Regions from separate parts of the Homo sapiens genome. Here all the other regions are linked to region 2. Evidence: fine-mapped expression QTL. A gene starts in region 2. Each other region holds a variant in brackets. All regions are shown on one strand. Distances are from middle to middle. Region 1 overlaps UNKL (unk like zinc finger). Region 2 holds the start of GNPTG (N-acetylglucosamine-1-phosphate transferase subunit gamma). Region 3 holds the start of BAIAP3 (BAI1 associated protein 3).

Region 1 (11,007 bases), 39 kb after region 2:
CACGTCGGCACCCTGCAGAAAGCACCGCGGGACGGCGGCCAACTTCTACGCCCTGGCGAGGCCCAGGGAGAGCTTCCCAGACCCGGAGGGACTCTGACCGCACCGAGGAGAAACACCAGGACGGCAGGGCAGCGGGCTACGGTGCACTTGGGACAGGCACAGACACCTCTGGGGAGTGTCTCGTGAGCTTTTCTGCAGAAAACGTTTCAGGAGTAGACATTTGCCAGTAAAAATCAATCTGGCACGTGCAGAAAGATGTGTCAGCGGCCAGGAGCCCGCCAGCCCGAGGGGCAAGCCGTGCAGCCTGCCTGCCCTTCTCCCCACACCTCCTGGGTGCCCCCGCCCCGGCTCTCGCCCAGGACTGGCTCCTGAGCACCTTGGGGGGCCCCCAGAGAAATGTCCTCCCAGGGACTTAAAAAGAGATCCAGCACCACTTCCAAAACATCCATAGCGTGGTCCTGTGACCTCGTCACCAGGGAAAGTAAAACACAGGGCAATTCACATGATCTGTATTTGGTGGATAATAGATCAAAAGAAAAAGAGCAACACACAGAGCAGTGCTGAATAAAAACCCAGTAACGGGGAGGGTGCTGCTCACAAGAAAACACCCGACACAAAAGACCCAGAGCCACCTACGAGGTCACTGCAAAACCAAGCATCAAAAGCTGGATTAGAATGAGTTTCTGGCTGGGCACAGTGGCTCATGCCTGTAATCCCAGCACTTTGGGAGGCCAAGGTGGGCAGATTACTGGAGGTCAGGAGTTCGAGACCAGCCTGGCCAACATGGCGAAACCCTGTCTCTACTAAAAATACAAAAAAAATTAGCCAAGGCCGGGCGCGGTGGCTCACACCTGTAATCGCAGCACTTTGGGAGGCCGAGGTGGGCAGATCACCTGAGATCAGGAGTTCGAGACCAGGCTGCCCAACATGGAGAAACCCCATCTCTACTAAAAATACAAAAAATTAGCCGGGCGTGGTGGTGGGCGCCTGTAATCCCAGCTACTTGGGAGGCTGAGGTAGGAGAATTGCTTGAATCCGGGAGGCAGTGGTTGTGGTGAGCCGAGATCGCACCAATGCACTGCAGCCCAGGCAACAGAGAGACTCTGTTTCCAAAAAAAATGAATTGCATCCTGAAATATTACAATTCAAATGGTATGATATCTGGGTTTTGCTGCAAAGTAATGCAGAAAAAGTTAACCTTGGGAGGTGTGATTTTACTAGTTTGTCTCCTTAAGTAAAACTGTCCATAATGAAGAAATTTTAATGTGCATTTCCTAAAGATCAGAAATCCCCGACAAGAACGCGCCTGGCTCCTGGCTTCTGTGACCTAAGGGTCCTGCTGCCTGCCCTGGCTTCCTTCTGGATACCAGATTTGCCCCTCAGCCCACGGCCCAGGAGGTGCACAGAGCCCCCCGTGACTGACTCTGAAAACAGTCCCCTCCAGCTGCAAAGTCTGGAGACAGCCACCAGAGCTCCCTGCCCAGGTGCGAGAAGGGGCCTGCCCCCTCGTCCATAATCCACTTCCTCTCCCTGGCCCAGAGACCACTTTTCCTCAAGCCATGAAAAAACGGACCACAGTCCACCCCGTGAGCATCAGGGACGGCGGTAACTCCTGCACCCTACACCGCAGACCCTCCCAGCCATGCAGCACCGGGGACCCTCCCAGCAATGCAGCACCGGGGACCCTCCCAGCCATGCAGCACCGGGGACCCTCCCAGCCATGCAGCACCGGGGACCCTCCCAGCCATGCAACACCGGGGACACTCCCAGCCATGCAACACCGGGGACACTCCCAGCCATGCATGGTGCTGCCAATACCCCCTATCAATCCCCCATGGTGAGCCTGGTGACAGGGTTGCTGGAAGCCTCATGTTCTCCAGCAAGCAGCCCAGAAACACTATGGGTGATTCGAGACCTGGTGCCATCTCAGTGGCAACCCGCCCCCTATCCCTTGCACTTCCTGTCCCTGCTTCAGACCCTCAGTGTGGCCCCAGGAAGGCTGAGAAGGACCTCTTGACAGACGTTCTGGTGACCAGACATCCAGGAGCAACGCACACCTGGGAGCTCCTTGTACCCCGATGGCTTGGATCGGGGAGGGAGCCGACCTTCTCTACCAGCAAAGGACAGGGCCACCTGGGCTGTGGGGCTGAGGAGGCAGGCACCAGCAAGGGGTGAGTGACGTGGGGCGGTCTGCTGAGCTCACCGCATCCAGCAGCTATCACTCAGAACCAAAAGCTCAGGATGGCAACGCACGGCCCTCCGGGGACGTGGACACTGCACAGCCGCACGGCTGCCCGGCCCTCCGGGGACGTGGACACTGCACCGCCGCACGGCTGCCCGGCCTGCGGAAGCCCTCCCCCACCCCCGCCTCATCCCATCTCTTGGCAGCCCACCCTGTGTCCCGGGGTCTGCCCAGGTCCGTGCTCTGGGGCACGGTCCCTACACACAAGCTGCCCCTGCTCAGTCAGGCTGAGGTTCCCCATGTCCTGACCCACCAGTAGCCTAGAGGCCACCGCCCGGGTCACAGTCACCCCTGTGGATGTCCTCTCAGCTCCATGACCCCTGTGGGCGTCTCAGTCCTTGCCTGAACCCAACTCCAGAGCATCACCCAGGCCCAGAGGCCACCTCCCATGTAAGGGAGAGCTGAGGGACTGTTGCCTGGAAGGGCCCCGGGCCCACCAAGAAGCCGTGGACGACGCTGGGGTTTGCAGAGCAGGCCTGCCCCGCCCTGGGTCGGACAGGGAGTCTGTGCCCCGCACCTGTGTCTGCATAGAGCCCAAGAATGCAGAAAGCCAGGAGGCACCACAGTGCAGGTGCCACGTTTGCCCCCAAAGCAGCACTGATCTGAGGGCTGGGCACGGGCTGACCCTCGGCTGGGACAGGCAGCCTCAGGCTCCCAAAGCGCTGCCCGGCCCAGGGTGAATGCAGCACCCTCAGAAGCCAAGGCCGCCTCCTTCCCGCCTGTCTGCAGGAGGGGACTCCACCCCGGAGGCCTTCCCCAGCCTACTGGAGGCCATAAACCAACAGGGACCAGAGAGGAAGCCTCAGCCCTGAGTGACCCCCCAGACCCCATGCTGACCCTGCCCGGGAGCTGGCCAGGGTGATGCGCACACTGTGACTTCAGCCCAAACGATCACCTGAAAATCATCAACATCCATGTCACTCCTTGTACCCCAAGGCACAATGGCCACAGATGACGGGCCTGGTGTGGGAGTCCATCCACATGAGGGATGGGCACAGTGAGAGGGGTCAGACGAGAGCTCCGTGAGGATCCCGCACCTTCACTAACACCGGCACCGTTCTCCCCGTGGGGACGCCACACCTCCGCTACCACCAGCACCGTTCACACCATGAGGACACCGCACCTCCGCTAACACCAGCACCGTTCGCCCCGTGGGGACAGCACACCCCAAGCTACCACCAGCACTGCCTGCCTGGTTTTTCTTCTCTGTATTATAGTGAAATATAATATAAAATTTGCTACAGTGGCCATGGTTTGGTGTAGTACGTGGCATGAATTCCATCCACACCGCTGTGCAGCCATCACCGCGTCCACCTCCAGAACTCCTCATCTTCCAGCCGGAAGCTCTGACCCCGTGAACACTTGCCCCCTCCCCCGGCCCCGGCCCCGGCCCCCACCATGCCACCTGCTGTCTGTGAATGTGACTCCACTAGAGACCTCCTGTGAGTGGAATCACGCAGGTTTTGCCTTTCGGTAACTGGCTCATTTCAGTCAGCACAGTGTCTTTGTTATGGACCAAACGTGTCCCCCCCAAATTCCTACGTGGAAGCCTTGACCCCCGGTGTGACTAAATTTGGAGATAGGGCCTGTGAGGAGTAATTAAGGTGAAATGAGTTCTTACTCCAGGCGTGGAGGCTCACACCTGTAATCCCAACACTTTGGGAGGTCAAAGCAGGAGGATTGCTTGAGCCTAGGAGTTCGAGAACAGGCTGGGCAACCCCATTTCTAAAAAAATACAAAAATTAGCCAAGCCTGGTGGTGTATGCCTGGGGTCCCAGCAACTCAGAAGGCTGAAGTGGGAGGACTGCTTCAAGCCTGGGAGTCCCGGGCTGCAGTGAGCTGGGACTTGGCCACTGCACTACACCTGGGTGACACAGCCAGACCCTGCCTCAAAAAATTTAAGAATCTGTAAAAACACAACAGCAACAATGAAATGAGGTGTGGGGGCAGGGCCCTACGCAGCCACTGTCCTCAGGAAGAGACCCCAGGGATGCCCACGCACAGAGGGGTGACCCCAGAGGACACGGAGGAGGCAGCATCTGCACCCGGGGGGCCTCAGGAGCCAGCTCTGGACAGCTCAAGCTCGGACTCAGCCCCCAGAACTGAGAGAGTCAAGTGCTGCTGCTTGGGGATTGGTTTTGGTTTGGTTTGAGACAGGGCCTCACTCTGTCGCCCAGGCTGGAGTGCTTGGCTCACTGCAACCTCCACCTCCTGGGCTCCAGCAATTCTCTTGCCTCAGCCTCCCAAAGTACTGGAACCACAGGTGTGAGCTACTGTGCCCAACTAAAACTACCTCATTCATTCATTCATTCATTCATTCAGAGACAGAGTCTCACAGTGTCACCCAGGATGCAGTGCAGTGGCACGATCTCGGCTCACTGCAATCTCCACCTCCCGGCTTCAAGCAATTCTCCTGCCTCAGCTTCCCGAGTAGCTGGGACTACAGGCACGTGCCACCATGCCTGGCTAATATTTTGTATTTTTAGTACAGATGGGGTTTCACCATGTTGGCCAGGCTGGTCCCGGACTCCTGACCTCGTGATCCGCCCACCTTGGCCTCTCAAAGTGCTGAGATTACAGGTGTGAGCCACCGTGCCCGGCAAGTTCTGCTGTTGGAACGGCCCCATCTGCATCCTTCCCTCGCAGCCCAAAAAAGTAACACAGATGGGCTCCAAAGGGCCCCTCTTATTTCCCCGAGCACGATGTTGTGGCTTTGTTTCCAAGGTATAACACGAACGTTTCAAACAGACAAACACGGGGGTACCAGGAAAGAGCTAATTCTACAACAAGCGGACGTCAACCAGATGGCTTTGCGAGCCGAGAGTGGGCGGGACCAAGGATGCATGAGCGCTGCCCTAACGCGATGCCACGGGTCAGGCACGAGGGCGGGAAGCCTCAGCCCTAACGCGACATCAGGCACGAGGGTGGGAAACCTTGGGGGCCTGTACCTGCTTGCTGTCTTGCTCGCTGCCCCTAGGGCCA[C/G]CCTCGGCCGGCGAGTCTCTCCGCTTGGCCTGCAACATAAAAAACAGTCATATGTGGAAAAAGCAGGGAGGAAATGTAAATTAAAAACATACAATTCAGGCTGGGCACAGTGGCAGCACTTTGGGAGGCTGAGGCGGGCGGATCATCTGAGCTCAGGAGTTCGAGACCAGCCTGGCCAACATGGTGAAAACCTGTCTCTACTAAAAACACAAAAAATAGCCAGGCGTGGTGGCACATGCCTGTAGTTTCAGCTCCTCGAGAGGCTGAGGCAAGAAAATCGCTTGAACCCAGGAGGTGGAGGTTGCAGTGAGCCGAGATGGCACCATTGCACTCCAGCCTGGGCAACAAGAGTGAAACTCCGTCTCAAAAAATAGAATAAAAAATTTAAAAAAGGATATCGCTTGAACCCAGGAGGTGGAGGCTGCAGTGAGCCAAGGTCATACCACCGCACTGCAGGCTGGGTGATAGAGTGAGACTCTGTCTCCAAAAAAAAATACACACACACACACACACACACACACACACACACAATATATATGTACCTATTCAGCAGTACTCTTGGTCCCTTAAAGATACACACACACACACACACACACACACACACACACACACACACACATAAGCTCTGCTCAGAATTTAGACGAATGCTATTTTTGGTTTTGTTTTGTTTTGAGACAGGATCTCGCTCTGTCTCCCAGGCTGGAGTGCAGTGGCATGACCTCCCTGGCTAAAGCAATCCTCCTGTCTCAGCCTCCCAAGAAGCTGTGAGCACAGGCATTTGCCAGTGGACCCAGTTAATTTTTCAAAGCTTTCTGTAGAGACAGGGTCTTGTTATGTTGCCTAGGCGGGTCTCGAACTCCTGACCTCGAGCGATTGTCCCACCTCAGCCTCCCAAAGTGCCTGGTTTACAGGCGTGAGCCACTGCAACTGGCCAAAGATGCCAAATCTCGAAGGTCTCATGAAACAGAAGAGATGCCTGAACCTGCTGGCTCCCTGTCGGTTCTCCTGAGTTCCATTTCTTTTCTTTTCATTTTTTTTCTGAGACAAAGTCTCACTCTGTCATCCAGGCTGGAGTGCAGTGGCGCGATCTCAGCTCACTGCAAGCTCCACCTCCCGGGTTCAAGCAATTCTCCTGCCTCAGCCTCTGGAGTAGCTGGGATTACAGGCGCACGCCACCACGCCCGGCTAATTTGTGTATTTTTAGTAGAGATGGGGTTTCACCATGTTCATCAGGCCGGTCTCGAACTCCTGACCTCAGGTGATCCACCCGCCTTGGCCTCCCAAAGTGCTGGGATTACAGGCGTGAGCCACCGCGCCCGGCCCTGAGTTCCATTTCTTACATTTGAACGTGGCTCTCTGACCTTGGGTTGGTCCGTGTGAAGGCAGGGTGCCAGCTCTGCACTCCCTGAACCAACCATGGCATCAAACCCCAAACCGAGCCATTCACCTAAGGCAGAGGCTCAGGTGAAACTGTTAAGAAATATATGAAGGGAGTCAGAGTGTGCCACCCCAAAACATGCCACTCTTTGACAAAAAGATTATTTTGAGTTGAAGGCAGCTGAGAAACAGTAGATGCAGGAGCAGCTCTCTGCTTCCTTCCTGCCTCGAAGCCGGGCGTGAATTCCCTCTGTGAAGGTGTCCTCTCCCCTCTCCACACCAGGAGGAGAGACTGCAGATTGAGGCTGCATAACCAACCTCACTGAAGTTGCTCTTACCTTCCGCCAGTCTCCCCCATAGCCTTACCTTCCTAGAAGCCCAACCCCCTCTTCCCCCCTCTTTTTTTGTTTGAGATGGGGTCTTATTCTGTCACCCAGACTGAAGTGAAATGACGGGACCTCACCTCACCACAACCTCCGTCTCCTGGGTTCAAGTGATTCTCCCGCCTCAGCCTCCTGAGTAGCTGGGATTACAGGCACCCACCACCACACCTGGTTAATTTTTGTATTTTTAGTAGAGATGGAGTTTCACCATGTTGGCCAGGCTGGTCTTGAACTCCTGACCTCAGGTGATCCACCCGCCTCAGCCTCCCAAAGTGCTGGGATGACAGGCGTGAGCCACTGCCCCCAGCCTAGTGGCAAGGATTTTTCTAGACTCTTCTAGAAGAGCCACGAACTCCACAGACTGCCCACGACCACATTGCTGAAAACTCATATCCATCCACATCCCTAAGAGTTCAATTAAACCAAAGGACACTGGGCATTGTCCTGGGAAGGCCGTTCACTTACATTTCCCGGCTGGCCGCTGCCCGTGGAGGAAGGACTCGTGAGGTGGAGGTCGTGACAGCCCCATTCATTCACCATCCCCAGGCTCTCTGCAAGGACAGGGGAGCAGCAGACTCTGAGGGCCGCTGGTGGGCGACAGTGACACGCAGAAGTCTCCGCACCACACGTCAGGGCCGAGTGTGCGCAGCCTCGTCACAATCATCCCTCAGGGGTGCGGCAGAGGACGGCTGGGCAGTGGTGGGGACACTCAGGGCAACAGGACCCTCTGGTCTTAGACCAGTTTTTCATGTTTTTAACACTAAAAGCAATGTTTAAAACGTGAACAAGAATAGCTGCCCTCCCCACTAAAATAAAAAACAAAGGAAAATTTGAGCTTGTGACCACACACACAAAACCTGGAACCCAAATCCTAGGGCTGGGAGGAGGAGGCCGTGTGGGTTCCCACTGAACCCAAACCCCAGGGCTGCGAGGAGGAAACCCACTGCAGCGTGGAGGAGGCCGCATGGGTTCCCACTGAGTCCAAACCCCAGGGCTGCCAGGAAACCCACTGCAGCGTGGAGGAGGCCGCGTGGGTTCCCACTGAACCCAAACCCCAGGGCTGCCAGAAGGAAACCCACTGCAGCGTGGAGGAGGCCGCGTGGGTTCCCACTGGGGCTTGTTTCTGCTGCTGGGAACTTATTAGGGACCACATAATCGCCAAAGCTAAGCCCTCATCCCCTGGACAGCAAACGGGCTCTGGAAAGCACAGGGTCACCCTGAGCAACCCTGCTTGAGGGTCTCTGCTGTCTCCCCGAGCTGGGGCGGACAGACCCCCTCTCTCCACAAGGGAGGTGGTGCTCCTGGGTGGGTGCCTGGCAAGATGGCAGTCTCGGAGCAAGGCCCAGGCAGTGGGTGGCAGAAGGACCCAGCTTGGATGCCCAGGAGGCAGGTGGAGGTGCCAGCCAGCCCACACCAGGACTCAGCCTCCAGGCTCAGGGCCCCAGCGTGCCTGAAGACAGGGTCCCTGCAGATTCCACCAGGCCTGGCCCACGCCGGCGTGGAGGGAGCCCAGCCTCACATGGCACAAACACCCCAGGGAGCCTCCACGGGCATGTCAGGGACCCCCAGCCCCCAACCACGGTGCTGAGCTCCTGCCCGCCTTCCAGGTCCTCGTGGGCAGCTCCGGGTCATCGGTAACTCCAGTGAGGGCCTGCAGAGCCGCGGAACCTGCTAAGGTGAACCTGCCACAGGGACGGTTACTCACTCTCAACGTGTGCAAAGGCACAGAAGGGGCCGCGCGGGCAGTACCCGGTTTGGCGCATGTCGTTGCATTTTGTAGATTTGTAGATCTGGGGAAAAAAGTGAAATAAAGAGGTTGGATTGGAAATGGGATTCTGTGGAAAGACCACAGCTGGCATCATCCCAAGGGAGAGGATTAAGCTCCAAATCGTAACAAGACACCCCTGAAAAGGGGGGCGTGGGCCCTGCCCTCCTCCACGTGTGCCCTTGGTCCCCACATCCCTCCTCTCTGCAGAGCCGACCCACAGGGAACACGCACACATGTGGGGCCATTCCCGCAGCATCTGCCCTCCCATCACAGGCAAAGTCATTTCCCCGCTTGATATTTTCTGAAAGATGCACCAAATTCAGAGTCTGGTATGCAGCAGGTGCCTAATAAGTGCCTATTAAAAGGAACACGTGTGTCTGTTCCCTGATCAGACCCACTGACCCTTCACCTAGGGTGACAGCCCCTCTCATGAGGTCAACAACACTTAAGACCCGGCAAGGGACAGACCAGCCTGGAAGCCCCCAGTCGGCCTTGGGAGGCCTGGCCCAGCCCCTCCTGCTCCGTAGCTCTCCGTAAAGGACACGGCACCTGGCACGCCAGGCCTCCAGTGCCCACACCTGCCTGGGTCCCAGCAGGAAGCCTCTCTCCTGACCTCCGGCCTGGCCCCACCCCCCCATGGCCCTTCCACCACGTCGGGCACCCGGTGGGGTCCCGTTTGCTTGTTCATTTTGTTTGTTTTTTGAGAGAGAGTCTCGCTCTGTCACCCAGGCTGGAGTGCAGTCGCAAGATCTCGGCTCACTGCAACGTCCACCTCCCGAGTTCAAGTGATTCTCTTGCCTCAGCCTCCCAAGTAGCTGGGATTACAAGCATGTGCCACCACACCTGGCTAATTTTTGTAGTTTTAGTAGAGATGGGGTTTCGCCATGTTGGCCAGGCTGGTCTCAAACTCCTGACCTCGGCCCCACAAAGTGCCGGGATTACAGGCGTGAACCACCGTGCCCGGTCTGTTCATTTTTTTTTTTTTTTTTTTTGAGCCAGAGTCTGGCTCTGTCGCCCAGGCTGGAGTACAATGGTGCCATCTTGGCCCACTGCAACCTCTGCCTCCTGGATTCAAGCAATTCTCCTGCCTCAGCCTCCTGAGTAGCTGTGACTACAGCCATGAGCCACCAAACCTGGCTAATTTTTGTATTTTTAGTAGAGACGGGTTCACCATGTTGGCCAGGCTGGTCTCGAACTCCTGACCTCAGGTGATCTGCCTGCCTCGGCCTCCCAAAGTGCTGGGATTACAGGCGTGAGCCACTGTGCCTGGCCTGTTTGTTTTTAATACAAATCTGAGTATGGTCCCTTGGCAACTACACGGCTGGGTGTGAACACAGCCTCCCTGTACCGTCCATACCCTGCACCTTCTAGTGGAGGCACAGGCCTGGCTCCATCTCAGGCTGCCCCTTCCGCCCCAGGAACCTCCTGCCTCGGAAGAGTCCTTGTTTACCTGGGGCGGGGCCCAGGCGGGAGGGTTTATCTCCCTCAGGATTTATGGTGCGGCTGTGGCCCACGTGGTGCCAGCTCCACTCAGCTGGGTACCAGAGACTGGGGTCTGCAACCAGGCCTGCGTGACTGAACACAGAAAACGCCCCGGACACCGGACTCCCGACAGGCCCCTGGTGACACCATTGAGTGTGTGGTCACCGACACCCAGAAAGCATGATGCGCGTCTGTGACAACATGAGTCAAGAAACGACGGGAAGCAGCGCCTGGTCCTTCCCAGCCCCTGCACGCCTCCCCCTTGGCTGAGGATTTTACTTTTTTTAGATAGAGTCTTGCTCTATCCCCCAGGCTGGAGTGCAGTGGCGCACTCTTGGCTCACTGCAACCTCAGCCTCCCAGGTTCAAGTGATCCTCGCGCCTCAGCCTCCAAGTAGCTGAGACTATAGGCGCGCACCACTACACCTGGCTAATTTTTGTATTTTTAGTAGAGACAGGGTTTCACCATGTTGACCAGGCTGGTTTCGAACCCCTGACCTCAAGTGATGTGCCCACCTCAGCCTTCCAAAGTGCTGGGATTACAGTGTGAGCCACCGTGCCTGGCCTGAACATGTGTTTTGTTTTGTTTTTTTTCCTTGAGATGGAGTCTCGCTCTGTCCTCCAAGCTGGAGTGCAGTGGCGTGATCTCGGCTCACTCTAAGCTCTGCCTCCCGGGTTCAAGCGATCCTCACGTCTCAGCCTCCCAAGTTCAAGTGCTCCTCGCGTCTCAGCCTCCCGAGTAGCTAGGACTACAGGCGCGCACCACCACACCCA
Region 2 (6,709 bases):
CGCCGCGCGGCCTGTGTGTTGTTCACCGTCATGGACCACGACTGGCTGTCCACCAACGACTTCGCTGGGGAGGCGGCCCTCGGCCTAGGTGGCGTCACTGGTGTCGCCCGGCCCCAGGTGGGCGGGGGTGCAAGGGCTGGGCAGCCTGTCACCCTGCACCTGTGCCGGCCCAGAGCCCAGGGTGAGTGAGCATCTGGGTGGAGGCAGGGGCAGCGGGCCTGACCCCGGCCCCCACACACCTGCCCGCGCTGCTTGCAGTGAGATCTGCGCTGAGGAGGCTGGAAGGCCGCACCAGCAAGGAGGCGCAGGAGTTCGTGAAGAAACTCAAGGAGCTGGAGAAGTGCATGGAGGCGGACCCCTGAGTCCATCAGCTGCCAGCCCCGGCCCTGGCCCCCACCCCAAGTTCCCTGAAGCATCCTCCAGCTCACTGTGGCCAGCTTTGTGCAACCAGGGCCCACGGCGCCCCTCCTGTGCTGTGACGTGTGTGTCGTGGCTGGCCCCGCGGCGCCTACCGCCCTGGCCGTGTCTGTCTGGTGTGTGCTGTGAACCCCTGCACCCAACCCCACATCTGGGTGGCCAACTTGGCAGGACTTGGCCAGCAGCTGCCCAGGACACAGTGCAGGCCAGAGCGGGCTTGACCACCTGGTGGGCCTCCCTGCCCGCTTCCTTGGGCTCCCCGGCCCTGGGTGGGCGGTGGGCAGCTGGTCTCCAGGGACTCAGTGAGTGGCTGTGCTCTCTGCACAACGGGCAATGTGCAGACGCATTTTTGGTAATCACAGCTGGGGAGTGAAAAGGGTGCCACTGGCACCACTGGGTGGATGGTCCAGAGCCTCCACCCACAGAGGGGATGCAAAGGGCAGGTGAGTCAAGAACCGCATAGGTCTCCAGTCCCCACGGGGCTCCCAGGCCGGGGAAAGGTTCCCCTGAGGTCACTCTGAGGCCAGGGACGTCACCCAAGGCTGGTGGTCAGTGTGAAGGGCTCCGTGCCAACTGGTCAGCTGTCCTTCACGCACATATCCGTGGCCACCTGAGACCTGCTCCACGACCCTTCCAGGCAGAGCCGAGAGTTCGCCCCAACCCTTCCCCAGGCCCAGTGTGAAAAACAGACTCACAAGGGGCTTCTTGGCCTGCAGCTTCATTTGCGAGAGCGCCGAGGCAGGACACAGAGCACAGCTGTGCTGGAAGTGTGGGGAGAACCCGGACAGCTCAGTCCTGCCAGCAGCCGCAAAGAGCCGAGGCTGCCAGGCCCATTTATGTCCCTCATGTCTCTAGATTTTCTCGTCACCCAGCCTCAAAAATATATGTGTCTGCAACCCTCAGTCTCTCTGCCGTTTCTTGATTCCTTTCCAAACCTCAGCCGGGGCCCTGGCCTCAGCCCCCCGTCCCTGCGTCTGCTCCTCTTCACAGCAGCTGCTGCTGGCTCCTCCGCGCTCGGCGCCAGGCCCTGGGTCCTCAGACGCATCACTGTCATCAGTGTCCGAGGGCAGCCTGGGAGAGGAGGGGGAGCACGTTCCCAAATGACGTCCTCCCTGGCTAGCTGGAGTCAACGTCATCCACAAAAAGCCCCCAGCCGAGGACAGATTCCTCTTCCTCCCTGTGCTCTCCACACCCAAACCTCTCCAGTGGGACATGCACTGCAGGTTTTCTAGTCAGAAGACCATCGGGGTGTTGTTTACAACACCACCCCCAGGCAGCAGGAAGGGCTCAGGCCAGAGGTAGAAGAGAGCCCTGGGTCTGAGTGATCATGAAATTAAGCCCAAGGACCTACCGGGTGCTGGCCACAGGCCTGTTGGGGTTTCCAAACTCTCTCCCTGAATCCACATCGAAGGGATCTGAGCCGAGAGAGGAAAGTGGCCTCTAAGTGAGCTCAGAGCAGGACCAGGCCTCCCACCCCCCAGGCTTTGGAGGGCCTTGGTTCCCACCCCGCCAAGGCTCACCGATCTCCTCCTCCTGGGGGCTCTCCTTGGCATTGGCCAAGAACTCCTGCTCCGCCTGCAGCACCTCCTCCGGGCTGCCGCAGGCCGCGTACTTGTCCAGGAGCTGGCGGTTCAGGTCCAAGAAGCCCTTGCCCCATTTAAACTTCCGCAGCAAAATGACAGCAAGGTCTGGAAAGCCTGACGGTGTGAGAAACAGGAAACCCAAAGAAGTCGACGGTCCCCTCAAGTGCCTCCTGATCACCCTGCTGCCGGATGGCGGCGCTCTCCCAAGTAACCGCAGGGTCCCCAGCAAACATCAGCTCACAGTCCTGAGAACCCGTGCTGCCCCCAGCCTGCACCTCCCTTGCTACAGTCCACACCTCTGCAACCGACCAAGTCCCCCTCCTTTGCTGCGAAACAAACATTCCCACCAAGACTGCCCCACGCCTCATCAGGGCCTCTTTAGATCAGCAATTCAGTAAGGAGGACGTGGAGGATAAGGAGGATTCTCTGGGCAGTGGTGCCCTGATAATGAATGGCACCCCACACACCGGCCCTGATAGAACAGCGATCCCATTCTGCCTCTACTGCAACTCCACAGGCCGAAAACCTGAAGTGACAGTTGGGGCTGGAACCGTGGTCTGTCTGAACTGTTCCCCTGTCCGTCCCTTATGCTCCTCCTGGGGTCTGTCGGCAGGAAACATGATGCTGGGAGCATAGCAGGAACAGCAGGCCGCCGGGTCACACTGCTGTGGGGCCCCTGGACTCACCTACGATGCAGAAGGTGGCAGCAAACGCTTCCACGCAGGAAAGTCTGTAGGGCCGGCCATAGTTCACGGGGTTGGCGGCCACCAGGTAGGGCAACAGGCGCAAGTGGCTCCCTCGCATCTTCCCAAACGGTGTCTCGTCCAGCCTGGCCCAGGAGCAGTCGATGACGGCGACCCCAGACTGCGCCACCAGCTGTCTGCCAGGGACAGCATGGGATAAGTTCAGGAGCCAGCACTACCCAAGGTGGAGCATGCCCCGGAGAATGGCCTAGCTAAGGGATTCAGGGACATCATTCCGCCATCCCCAAACACCCTCAAACGGACTTCACGAGCAAGCTTTTGAGGCAGCTGCTTGGGGCACCTGGAGCATGTGTTTATTCACTCAACAAACGTTTATTACCCCAAAACCTCCTTTATCCCAGGCTCTGCGCTACGCAACGGAGGCAAACTAGACAGACGTTCCCTGCCCACGTGGGTGTGGATGTGGGTGCGACATACAAGTGCCACTAAACCATCCCTGAAGGGAACCACGCGCTGGAAATGAAGACGACCTCGGGCAGGCCTCCCGCGCCTACCTGTCTGCGGGGGACGCGTACTGCTTGCCCACGGGGCTCAGCACCAGACCGCCGAATCTGTGGCCCAGGCGCAGGCAGCGCACCAGCCCCAGGCGGGCCAGCTTGCGGCCCGTGCAGCGCCGGGGGTCGCAGTGGCCCAACTCCCACATGGCCAGCGTGCAGGGCAGCGCCGCCGGGCCCGGGCCGCCCTCGCCGTCAGCCGCCCCTGGCTCCACGGAAGCTGCACGAGAGAGAGAAGGGCACTCGGCCTCAGCGTGGGACCCCCGGGCAGGCCCTCAAACCCTGACCCGCTCTCCCCATCACGCCTCGCTCACCCTGCAGCGCGGCGCCGACCTCCTCGGCGAAGGCCTCCAGGGAGCGCGTCGGGAGGTGCCGAGGGCGGCCGCCTTCCGCCCCCGGCCCGCGCGCTGCCCTCCTGCGGCCCATGGCGCGGACCTGGGGTGCCGGGGACTCCCCACCCCACGGCCGCGCCCCTCGGCCTCCCAATGGGCTGTGCGGCTGCCAGCGCTTGCGCCGGACGCCACTTCCGGTCCCCGTGGTCACGTGACCGTCACTTCACGTGACCGCGCGGCGGCCGCTGCGGCGCGATGGCGGCGGGGCTGGCGCGGCTCCTGTTGCTCCTCGGGCTCTCGGCCGGCGGTGAGTGGCCCGGCCGTCCGCGTCCCCAGGCCCCGCGCGCGCTCTGCACCCCGGCCTCCCCGCTCACGGTCTCGCTCCCCGTAGGGCCCGCGCCGGCAGGTGCAGCGAAGATGAAGGTGGTGGAGGAGCCCAACGCGTTTGGGTGAGCAGCCTCGCGGGCTGGCGGCTCGAGCGGGGGACGGCCCGGGCCCGTTCCCCGCTGACCTTGCCGCTTCCCGTAGGGTGAACAACCCGTTCTTGCCTCAGGCCAGTCGCCTCCAGGCCAAGAGGGATCCTTCACCCGTGTCTGGTGAGTGAGGAGCGCTGTTGGCCGGCGCGGGGGTGGCCGCGGGGAGCAGCAACAGTGGAGGATGGATGAGTGACCCTGAGAGTTACGGCCCGGAGTCTAAAGCATTGGTTTGTCAGCCTTCTAAAATTAATGTGGAAGTACGAGAGAATATACCAGAACGTTCTTGTAGCGAATTAAATTATCTCCAGACTTAGTCCTTCCTTTCCTTTCCGAGAGGTAACTGCTGTTAATAGTCTGGTGACTTTGCAGACGCGTTTCTGTGCTTTTACGTGCGTGTCTATGCAACTGGAAAACGTATAGTTTTTGTAATCTAATCGCTTTTTTAAAAAATCATGCTGCGCGAGTATTTGGCTGATTTGTCGTTGTCACTCGCTGTATCTCTCGGGACGCTTCATGGTGATGATATAGGTCTTCGTTCTTTCTCTTGGTGCTCAGCACGCGATAGGATGGCACTGCACTCCCCGATTGTATTTAGGTTCTTGCCATTTTTTTGGCCATTAGAAATAGTTCTGTGGAGAACATGCTGTGTAGGTGCTTTGGTTTGCCCTCAGGTGAGCGGTTTCCCAGTGCAGGATTCCAGAAGTGGAATTGGTGGGTCATGAGTATATATATCATTTAAACGCTGAATGAGTATTAAATATAATAGACAAAAATCCAAGAATTTTTTTTTTTTTTTTTTTGAGACAAGAGTCTCGCTCTGTCGCCCAGGCTGGAGTGCAGTGGCACGATCTCGGCTCACTGCAACCTCCGCCTCCCAGGTTCAAGCGATCCTCATGCCTCAGCCTCCCGAGTAGCTGGGATCACAGGCATGCATCACCATCACGCCCAGCAAATTTTTGTATTTTTAGTAGAGATAGGGTTTATTTCACCGTATTGACCAGGCGGGTCTCGAACTCCTGACCTCAAGTGATCCGCCCATCTCGGCCTCCAAAAGTGCTGGGATTATAGGCGTGAGCCACCGCGCCCAGCTTTAGTAATTTTATTATCGAATACCTTTATGTGTTAGGGTCTGTGCTGGGGTTGCAGAAACGAACACAGATATACCAATGCTTGTCCTCATGGAGCTGACAGTCTAATGGGGAGGGATGGAGGAACAGGCACTGAGCCTGTAGAATTAGATAAAATACATAGAATGGCCAATGATGAAAAATGCCATGTAGATGTGTGAAGCAGAGGAGGGAGTGTGTGTATGTGTGTTAGAGTATTGTTTGGGGGATCGCTTTTTTTATTTTTTAGAGACGGGGTCTTGCTCTCTCACTCGGGCTGGAGTGCAGTAGTGCAATCATAGCTCACTGCATCCTTGAACTCCTGGGCTGAAGCAATCCACCAACCTCAGCTTCCTGAGTAGCTGGGACTACAGGTGCACGCCACCATGCCCGGCAAATGTTAAGTGTTCTTGTAGAGATGGAAGTCTCACTATGTTGCCCAGGCTGGCCCCAAACTCCCAGCGTCAAGCAATCCTCCTGTCTTGGTGGGGATTGCTTTAAATAGGGTGCTGAGGAAAAGTCTAAGAAGTGACATTTCAGCCAAAAGCTAAAGGAGAAAAGGGAGTAAAGCTGTGGCTATTTGGGGAAAGGGATCCAGGAAAGGGAGTGGCCAAAGGCCTTGAGCAGGACAGCCAGGGCCAGAGGGGATTCAGCTGGGGTAGCCACAGATCAGAGATAAAGGGGATCAGATGGTGCCGCACCGTGTTGGTAGGTTTGGTGGACTTTGACTCCAAACACATCTTTTTAAGTTTTTTGTTGTGTGGCTGGGCGTGATGGCGCACCTGGGGTTAGGCTCACTTCCCTGCGGCTCAGAAGCCATGGGATGGTGGCTTCCCAGGGCCTGAAGTGCTGGAGTCGGGCCACCACCTATCCCAAGAAGCTGGGGAGGAGGCAGGCCACTGTGTAACAGCGCAGTTCCCGACCGAACCCCTTCCAGTAGGAGAGAGGCAGCCTTGGCTAATGGGACCACGTCTTTTTGGAGGTGAGAGTCCTGGAAAGAAAACAGAATATGCTGGTCGTGGTGGTGCGTGCATGTTGCTCGGGAGCCTGAGGTGTGACGATCGCTTGAGGTCAGGAGTTCGAGACCAGCCTGGCCAACATGGTGAAACCCCGTCTCTACTAAAAAAAACCACAAAAACAAAAGTTAGCCGGGCATAGTGGTATCCTCCTGTAATCCCAGCTGCTTGGGAGGCCGAGGCTGGAGAATTGCTTGAATCCAGGAGGCGGAGGCTGCGGTGAGCTGAGATCATGCCCCTGCACTCCAGCCTGGGTGACAGAGCAAGACTTCGTCTCAAAAAAAAAAAAAAAAAAAAAAAACCCATAAAAATTTAGAAAAGAATACCTCTTCTAGTTTTCCCACCCCCATCCCCACATCAGGGCCAGTCAGGTTCACATGTGCATTTGGTTCATTATGTGTCTTTAGTGTTTTAATTTGGAACAGTTCTCTTCCCACCTTTGGATGTAAGTGGCACATTTGTTTCCCAGTTTCCTGATCTTTTTGTTTTGTTGATGGTGTTTTTCTCCAGACCATTTTTTC
Region 3 (7,590 bases), 20 kb before region 2:
GCCTCACCTTCCTGGACCTGAGGCCTGGCCCCGCCATCACTCACTGGGATCCGCTGATGGGAAGCCTTCCTCATGATTACCATGACGACAAGTTGCCAGGTTGGAGGGCCTTGCACTGATTCGGACTGGCTGGAGCTGGTTTGAGCCAGCTCCAGCAGGGAGGGGCCTGGGAGTGCTGGGTTTGGGATCCATCCCCAGCCGACCCTGATTCTGGGTCTGGGAGTGTCCTGAAGCACCTGCTCAGGAGACACAGCCTGAGATCCCCAGGCACCACCTGGTCTGAGGAAGCCATTGGGCCCAGTTGGGGTGGGGGCTCCTGGCTTTGGCCCATTGGGTGGGAAGGGGCTGGGGCAACTGGTCCCATCCACCCTGCCTGTCTCTGGCCCAGCCTGGTCCAAAGGCTTCTGCACCTGCCAGGAGATCGGCTTATCCGGCTCTTAGGAAGAAATAGGAACAGGCACAAGAAAACCACCGAGCACGTGTGGCTTGGGCTCTTCCTTCCCTGGGCCTCTGCCCTTCCTCCAGGATGCCCTCCGCCGAATAAGGCAAGTTCCCACTCCTCGATGCGGGCTGTGCCTTATTTATTTATTTAGAGATGGAGTCTCACTCTCTCGCCCAGGCTGGAGAGCAGTGGCATGATCTCGGCTCACTGCAACCTCCGCCTCCCGGGTTCAAGCAGTTCTCCTGCCTCGGCCTCCCGAGCCTGGGCTGTGCGTTTAAGGAGGGACTCTGAGGCCGGGCGCGGTGGCTCACGCCTGTAATCTCAGCACTTTGGGAGGCCGAGTTGGGAGGATCACCTGAGGTCAGGAGTTCAAGACCAGCCTGGCCGACATGGCAAATGCCCATCTCCATTAAAGATACAAAAATTAGGCCGGGCGCGGTGGCTCATGCCTGTAATCCTAGCACCTTGGGAGGCTGATGCGGATGGATCACAAGGTCAGGAGTTCAAGACCAGCCTGACCAATATAGTGAAACCCTGTCTCTACTAAAAATACAAAAATTAGCCCTTTGAGGAAGACGTGGTGGTAGGTGCTGTGAATCGCTGATCCGCACGCTCCTGCTCCTGACTCACCACTGTCCGCTCTCGCCAAGGAACAAGCTGGTCAGGAAGCCACGCAGCAGCTATGGCTTTATTATTATTTTTTAAAAATTTATTTATTTTTTGAGACGAAGTCTAACACTGTCGCCCGGGCTGGTGTGTGGTGGGGCGATCTCGGCTCGCTGCGGCCTCCACCTCCCGGGTTCAAGCGATTCTTCTGCCTCAGCCTCCCGAGTGCCTGGGACTACAGGCACACGCCACCACACCTGGCTAATTTTTGTATTTTTAGTGGAGACGAGGTTTCACTATGTTGGCCAGGCTGGTCTCGAACTCCTGACCTCGTGATTCGCCCACCTCGGCCTCCTAAAGTGCTGGGATTACAGGTGTGAGCCACCACGCCCGGCCTAAAAAATTCTTTTGGCTTTTAAGGATACCAGAAAAACACCCAAGGAGCCGGAGATGGCAATTCACCAAAATTCACCAAATTCACCAAAATTCACCAAATTCGCCAAATTCACCAAATTCACCAAAATTCACCAAATCTGAATCACTCTAACGAGCTACAGCATAAAATCACTTGAAAAGGTGTGTGCTGACTTGATCAGAGGCACAAAGGAAAAGAATCTCAAAGTGAAAGGACCGGTTTGAATCCTACCAACACTTTGAGAATCACTACAAGAAAAACTCCAGATGAGGCCAGGTTACAGCTCACGCCGGTAATCCCAGCACTTTGGGAGGCCGAGGCGGGCAGATCACGAGGTCAGGAGATTGAGACCATCCTGGCTAACAGTGAAACCCCATCTCGACTAAAAATACAAACAAATTAGCTGGGCATGGTGGCAGGTGCCTGTAGTCCCAGCTACTTGGGAGGCTGAAGCAGGAGAATGGCGTGAACCTGGGAGGCAGAGCTTGCAGTGAGCCAATACCGCGCCACTGCAGTCCAGTCTGGGCGACGGAGCAAGACTCCATCTCAAAAAAAAACTTATAAAAAAAAAAACTCCAGATGAGCATCCATAAGCAACTCATTGACTTGCACAGTCCTTCTGAGATTGTTAAGCAGATTACTTCCATCAGTATTGAGCCAGGAGTTGAAGTGGAAGTCACCATTGCAGATGCTTAAGTCAACTATTTTAATAAATTGATTACCAGTTGAAAAAAAAAAACAAAAAAATACAAAAATCAGCTGGGCATGGTGGCGGGCGCCTGTAGTCCCAGCTACTCGGGAGGCTGAGGCAGGAGAATCACTTGAACCCAGGAGGCAGAGGTTACAGCCGAAATCACACCACTGCTCTCCAGCCTGGGCAACAGGGCAAGACTCCATCTCAAAAAAAAAAAAGAAAAGGAGGGACTCTGAAGCCCCCAGAGCTGGGAGGAGTCGCCTCCCAACCCCAGCTCTGCACAGAAGGATGCACACTGAGGGCCTGGCCTCTCCCTGCTGGGCCCCTAACCACAGTGAGCACAGAAGCCCATCTCGCTGGGAAGGGGCCTCTGACACCCCCACCCTCAGGCTGGTGGGAGGCGGGGCCAGGGGACAGGGTGCCATCCTCCCTGCCATCCAAGCCTCACCGCAGCAGGGGCTGTCCTGCCTGCAGGGCTCTGGCACACCAATGGCCTTTGTTTGGGGGCTTGGTAGGACCCTGTCTTGGGCCCACTTCTTTGTCCCTGCCCTGCCCTGGACCCCTCACAGATGCTGCTACTAGCACGGAGGCCTGAGAGAACTCCAGCGTGACACTGGGTGGTCACCTCCAGCCGGCCCCACCTGTGCACGCGTGGCAGCAGGACTCCCGGAGCTTCTGGTGTGGGATCTGGAGACCAGCATCTCAGGCATGAGGCCAGACTTGGGCTGAGGCCCTCCCACCCAGAGCCCCTCTCTTGATGGGGCAAGGAACAGGTTCTGGCAGTCTTCAGGGTCCTCCAGCTCCGGGGCAGGCAGGGTCCCTGGCCAGAGTCCCTGGGCTCTGACCCCACGAGCTCTCCAAGGACCCTGCCCTTCCTTGCTTGGGTCCTCAGAGGGAAGTTGGGGGCAGATTCTGGGAGGCTGTGCCTGCAATTTCTAGGGCTGCCACCAGAGGGTGGTAGCACTGGGCCCTGCGCTGTGCTCATGAGCGTGGAACAGGAGGGGCTGTCTAACTCTGCCATGGCCTCACCTGTGTGCTTCAGCGGCTTTGGCGCCTGCGTATCCAGAGCCTGGTGTTTTTACCTGCCCCCCCATCTCCGCCCCCCGCCACCGGCCCGGCCCTAAGGAGGAAAAGCTACTCTCCCTGCCTGCCAGACCCTTTCCAGCACAAAGTCCTGAGAATGTGAAAAGAGCCAGGCTTGAAAAATGGCTTTTCTCAGCTTTGCACAAGCAGCCCTGGTGCCCCAGCAGCCTCCTCAAGCTCTGACCCCGTCTGGGCAGGGGGTCTCGTGTCCCGACACATCGGTGGGAGGTGTTCCTGCACCTGCGCCATCCCCTCACTGTCCCCGGAGCACGGCAGCTGTCTGCACTCCGGTCCGAAGGCAGAGACGCCAGGGTAGCCCCTTCAGAGTGAGGCCTGGGGCTCAGGGTGGGGAGGGTGGGCGGCCCACTCTCCTGCCCTCTCTCTTAGTGGGAGGGGACTCACGCGAGGATGGGCTTCCAGCCCCAAGCTATGGAAAGGTAAATTGGGTCACTGGAGGGGCCGGAGTTCTGGCTGGGTGGCTGCAGTTCCCATCCCCACCAACTGGGACTGAGGCTGACCTGCTGTGAGTTGAGACTGGCTCACTGAGGTCCCCCAGCTGCACCCAAGGTGGGTGCTGCTGTTGTCCCCATTTTACAGAAGAGGGAAACTGAGGCCCGGGCAGTGGAGGGTCGCCCTGGGGCAGGGGTGAGCAGGGTGCTGGGACTTTGATCCAGGTCAGCCTGTCTTCAGCCTCAGAACAAGTTGGAGAATGAAGGCCTTGGTCACTGAGTGGGGTGTCGCTCGGATCGTTCATTCCTCGACTCCTCACCAAATGTTTGTGGAGGGGACAGTCCTAGTGACCGTCCTCTCCTGGGGAAACGGAGGCCCAGGGCTGGTTTGGGACTCAACCTATCACTATGTGGCCCTGGAAAAGCCCTTTCCCGTCTCCGGACTCCAGTCTCCCTACCTAGAAAAGAGTGGGGAGAGGTCTCCAAGGGTGCTCCCGCACCCAACGGACTGCAGTGTTGGTTTCAGGGTTGGTGCTCTCGTAGGGGCCGGAGCAGCGGCTGCCCCTCCCAACTTCCTGTTTACCGTAGCTGCAGAGCCTGTCCCTTCA[C/A]TTAAAGCCAGTGTGATCACCATGGCAACCGGCCTGTGTTTGTTCCAACAGGTGGGCAGAACCTGGTGCAAGACCGCAGAGGCAGGGGCGTCACTCCCAGACCCGGTCTCCAGACCCACCAGCCCCTCAGGAGAACACTGCTACAGAGTGGGGCTGAGGGCCCAGGCCCCCTCCCCTGCTTCCCCCACCGCGTCCCTGTCCCAGCCAGTCCCTGCATTTCCTGCAAGCTCCCTGCCCTCCCCCACCGGCCTGGCTGTGCTGGGTCAGGATCCGGCAGAGCCTGGGCCGAGCGTCCCGAAGGAGAGCCCACCCAGGGGTCCTGCCCCCGATCCTGCACAGACAGGTGTGGGGCGGGCATGGATTTGAGTGAGTTGGGATCCAGAAGCCAAGACAGTTGTTGGCAGACGGGCCCCCTCCCTTTGAAGAGCTGTGTTCTGGAAGCCTGTCTGGCCTTGGGCTGCCCAGGTGCCCTTCGGGTGAAAACTCCAAAGTCTGACCACCCCCCACCCCTTGTCCCCAAAGGGCTGCGAGTGTCCAGCTGTATTCGACCAAGGGCAGGTGCGACCGGGGGGCCGCTGCGCCCTCGGCAAGTCTGAGAGCCTCAGGCCCCCGACAGGACCATGCTTAGCACGGACTTCTCAAAGTGTGGTCCCTGGACTGGCGGCAGCAGACTGGAGCTGGGAAGTGCAGGCGCTGGCTGGCGTGGGGACCACACCTGTGATCTCAGCGCCTTAGGAGGCCGGGGAAGGGGGATCCCTTGAGCCTGGGAGTTTGAGACCAGCCTGGGCAACATAGGGAGACCCCCATCTCCACAAAAGAAACCAAAAAACATTAGCCGGCGGGTGGTCCCAGCTACTGGGGAGGCTGAAGCGGGAGGACCACTTGAGCCGGAGAGTTCGAGGTTGCAGCGAGTGGAGATGGTGCCACTGCGCTCCAACCTGGTTGAGAGCTATTTTTGAGAGCTTTTTCGAGACTCTGTCTGAAAAAAAAAGGGAAAAAACGCAGATCGCGCCCCCACCCAGACTTCGGGACCAGCGGGTTGGGGACAGGACCCATCAATGCCTTAACAAACCCTGCAGGAGACCGCGGGCCCGCTGGGGTTCCAGGACAGCGCAGCGGAGGAAGAGCGGGGAGCCACCCGGGAGGGGCTGGCGGGGTCCAGTGCAGACCCCAGGGGCTCCGGGGGCTCTGGCCGGCTGTGACCCCACAAGCGCCAACTGGGCCCTCACCAGAGCCCCAGGGACGATCGCCCCACAGACCGTCCGCGTGGGCGTGGGGCGTCCCGAGTGGATCCCTGCAGGACGCATCCCCGCCCCGAGAAGAGAGCGGCGGGGCCCGCGAGGTGTCCCTGAGTCAGGCCCTTCCAGAAAGGTCTGCACCGCTGCTGGTCTTCGTGACCGTGGCTTCCCTGGGGTCCGCGGAGGAGACCCCGCCGACCACCCCCTTCTAGACCCCACGCGCCACGGGGAGGGCGCGCGCGGCCAGGCGGGGTCCCGAGGCAGCCAAGCCCGCTCCCCGTCCCGCAGCCACCTGTGGGTTGACTCACAGCCCCGCATCCCGGGGGAGGGGGCTCCGGCCCGGCTCAAGGCACGGAGACCCCGGCCGGGTCCCCTAAGGCGCCGTGGACGCGGGGGGCGGGGCGAGCGCGGTCAGGCCCCGCCCCGGTCAGGCCCGGCCCCGCCCCCAGTCAGACCCCGCCCCCGCAGCGGCGTCCGCCCAGCAGTTGCTCAGTCGTCGGCGCGCGCGGCTGGGAGCGGTAGCTGTGCCTCGGCGTCCCCGAGCTGGTGCCGAGCGCAGCGCCCCAGGAGCCCCCCCATCCCCGCGCCGGCCCACGGTAAGTGCCGCGGGCTGCGGCCAGTGCTGTTGGGCCGCCGTCTGGGCTCGGCCCCGCGCCCCAACCCGGACGGACCGACGGCCGCCGCCCCCTTGGTCCGGGTCCCCCAGGAGGCACGGGGGTGGCCTCCGAGGCGGGGGGCGGTGGGAAGGTCTCGACGTCCCCTCGGCCCTGGGGAAACTGAGGCCGCGCATGCTTGGAGGGGCGGGGTCTCGGGGGCATTTCCCCTCCGAACGCGCAGGAGAGGGTGCGGCGGTGGGGTCCGCACTGCGGAGCGGACGGGGAGGGTATCCGGGCGCTGGCGACGGCCTCCCCCGCACTTGAGCCGCCAAGCGAGGCTTCGACCCCCGCGCCTCCCTCCCCGGGGGAGCAGACGGGCCCGGGGCCTCCCAGCACCCCTCCCGGGCGGGCTGCACCCCCCAGCGTCCTCGTCCCTTCCCTCCTCCCGCAGGTCCTCGTAAGGCCCTTTAGTCCCCCCGAAATCCCTGCGAGTGCAAAGCGGCCCCTCCTTCAGCCCCACTCGGCAAAGGGCTGTGGGCTCTTGCCTGGGCCGGGGTCTCCGGGGGAGGAGTTTAAAGTGACACACTAGACCCGCCCCCAGACTCACCCCGGACCGCCCGCCCCCTCCGAGGGGAGAGACCCCCATAGAACTGGGGGTGTGGCTCCTGCGGGCGCCCGGGGCCCCGGGAAAGGGGGTGCCGCGAGGCGGGGCAGGGAGGGGGTCGGTGAGCAGAGGGAGGAGGGAGCGCTGCGCAGACACGGGCGAGGGGAGGAAGAAGGCGCCTCGGGCTCCGGTCTCCTGCGCTCCTGCTGGGCGCCAGCGGCTGGACCTTGGCAGCCGTCTGAGGCTTCGGGGAGCCCAAGGCCACCGGCAGCGCTTGTTAGAATGCAGATTCCCGGGGTTCGACTGGAATGAGACCCCGGGGAGCAGCGTTTGCAGCGGGCCCGCCAGGTGACCTGCACCTGGGCACCGCCATCGGCTTCGCAGGGGCCATCTGGAGGAGTCGGTGAGACCAGGGAGAGATTCCTGCGGGAAACCCCCAGGGCCTGGTGAAGGGGAGTCGGGGGGCTGAGGGAGGAAGAGCAGGGAAGCTGGAGAGAAGACCAAGAGGGCAGCGTGGAGAGCCAGCCTGTGGGGCAGATGTCCTGCCACCTCCCGCCCCAGGCACACACCCAGGGCACCATCAGCTAACCCCCTGCCCCAAATGTGGTAAGAAGGGCGCCCCCAACACGTTGAAGGCGTTTGTTCCTAGACAGCCTGCACTGGGGAGGAAGGCTGACCCAGCCTCTGCTCCGCTGCCCCCAGACTCAGCTGCCTCACTGCCCCCAACCCTGAGCCCCCAAATGGCCTGGCAGGAGACAGCTTGGCTTAAGAGTCCCAGGTTCACATCTGGGCTCTGGGCAAGTCGCCCCCACCCTGGGCTGTGAAATGAGATGTGCCATCCTCCTTGCAAAATGT

What was found.
Region 1: its variant is fine-mapped to the expression of GNPTG in whole blood (TOPMed, PIP 0.91).
Region 3: its variant is fine-mapped to the expression of GNPTG in whole blood (TOPMed, PIP above 0.99).

Annotation. Positions count from the first base shown.
Region 1 is chr16:1,385,442-1,396,448 of GRCh38, forward strand. UNKL (unk like zinc finger) reads right to left here. Exons shown (of 15, transcript NM_001372107.1): 7 at 8,690-8,774; 8 at 7,450-7,535; 9 at 5,191-5,253. Among named protein-coding and RNA genes, the nearest start is that of UNKL-AS1, 17 kb to the right of the region's middle. The variant C/G (reference allele first, on the strand shown) is at 5,225.
Region 2 is chr16:1,348,121-1,354,829 of GRCh38, forward strand. GNPTG (N-acetylglucosamine-1-phosphate transferase subunit gamma) reads left to right here and starts at 3,811. Exons shown (of 11, transcript NM_032520.5): 1 at 3,811-3,897; 2 at 3,982-4,039; 3 at 4,119-4,186. The coding sequence starts at 3,846. It overlaps BAIAP3 (BAI1 associated protein 3), which reads left to right. Exons shown (of 34, transcript NM_001199097.2): 33 at 1-181; 34 at 259-1,319. The coding sequence ends at 362. It overlaps TSR3 (TSR3 ribosome maturation factor), which reads right to left and starts at 3,758. Exons shown (of 6, transcript NM_001001410.3): 1 at 3,573-3,758; 2 at 3,259-3,478; 3 at 2,687-2,880; 4 at 1,938-2,114; 5 at 1,769-1,832; 6 at 1,120-1,488. The coding sequence starts at 3,684. The coding sequence ends at 1,317. RefSeq lists a silencer at 3,336-4,035.
Region 3 is chr16:1,327,619-1,335,208 of GRCh38, forward strand. BAIAP3 (BAI1 associated protein 3) reads left to right here and starts at 6,027. Exons shown (of 34, transcript NM_001199097.2): 1 at 6,027-6,131. It also overlaps the pseudogene RPS20P2. RefSeq lists an enhancer at 4,155-4,204 and silencers at 4,981-5,181, 5,917-6,076. The variant C/A (reference allele first, on the strand shown) is at 4,298.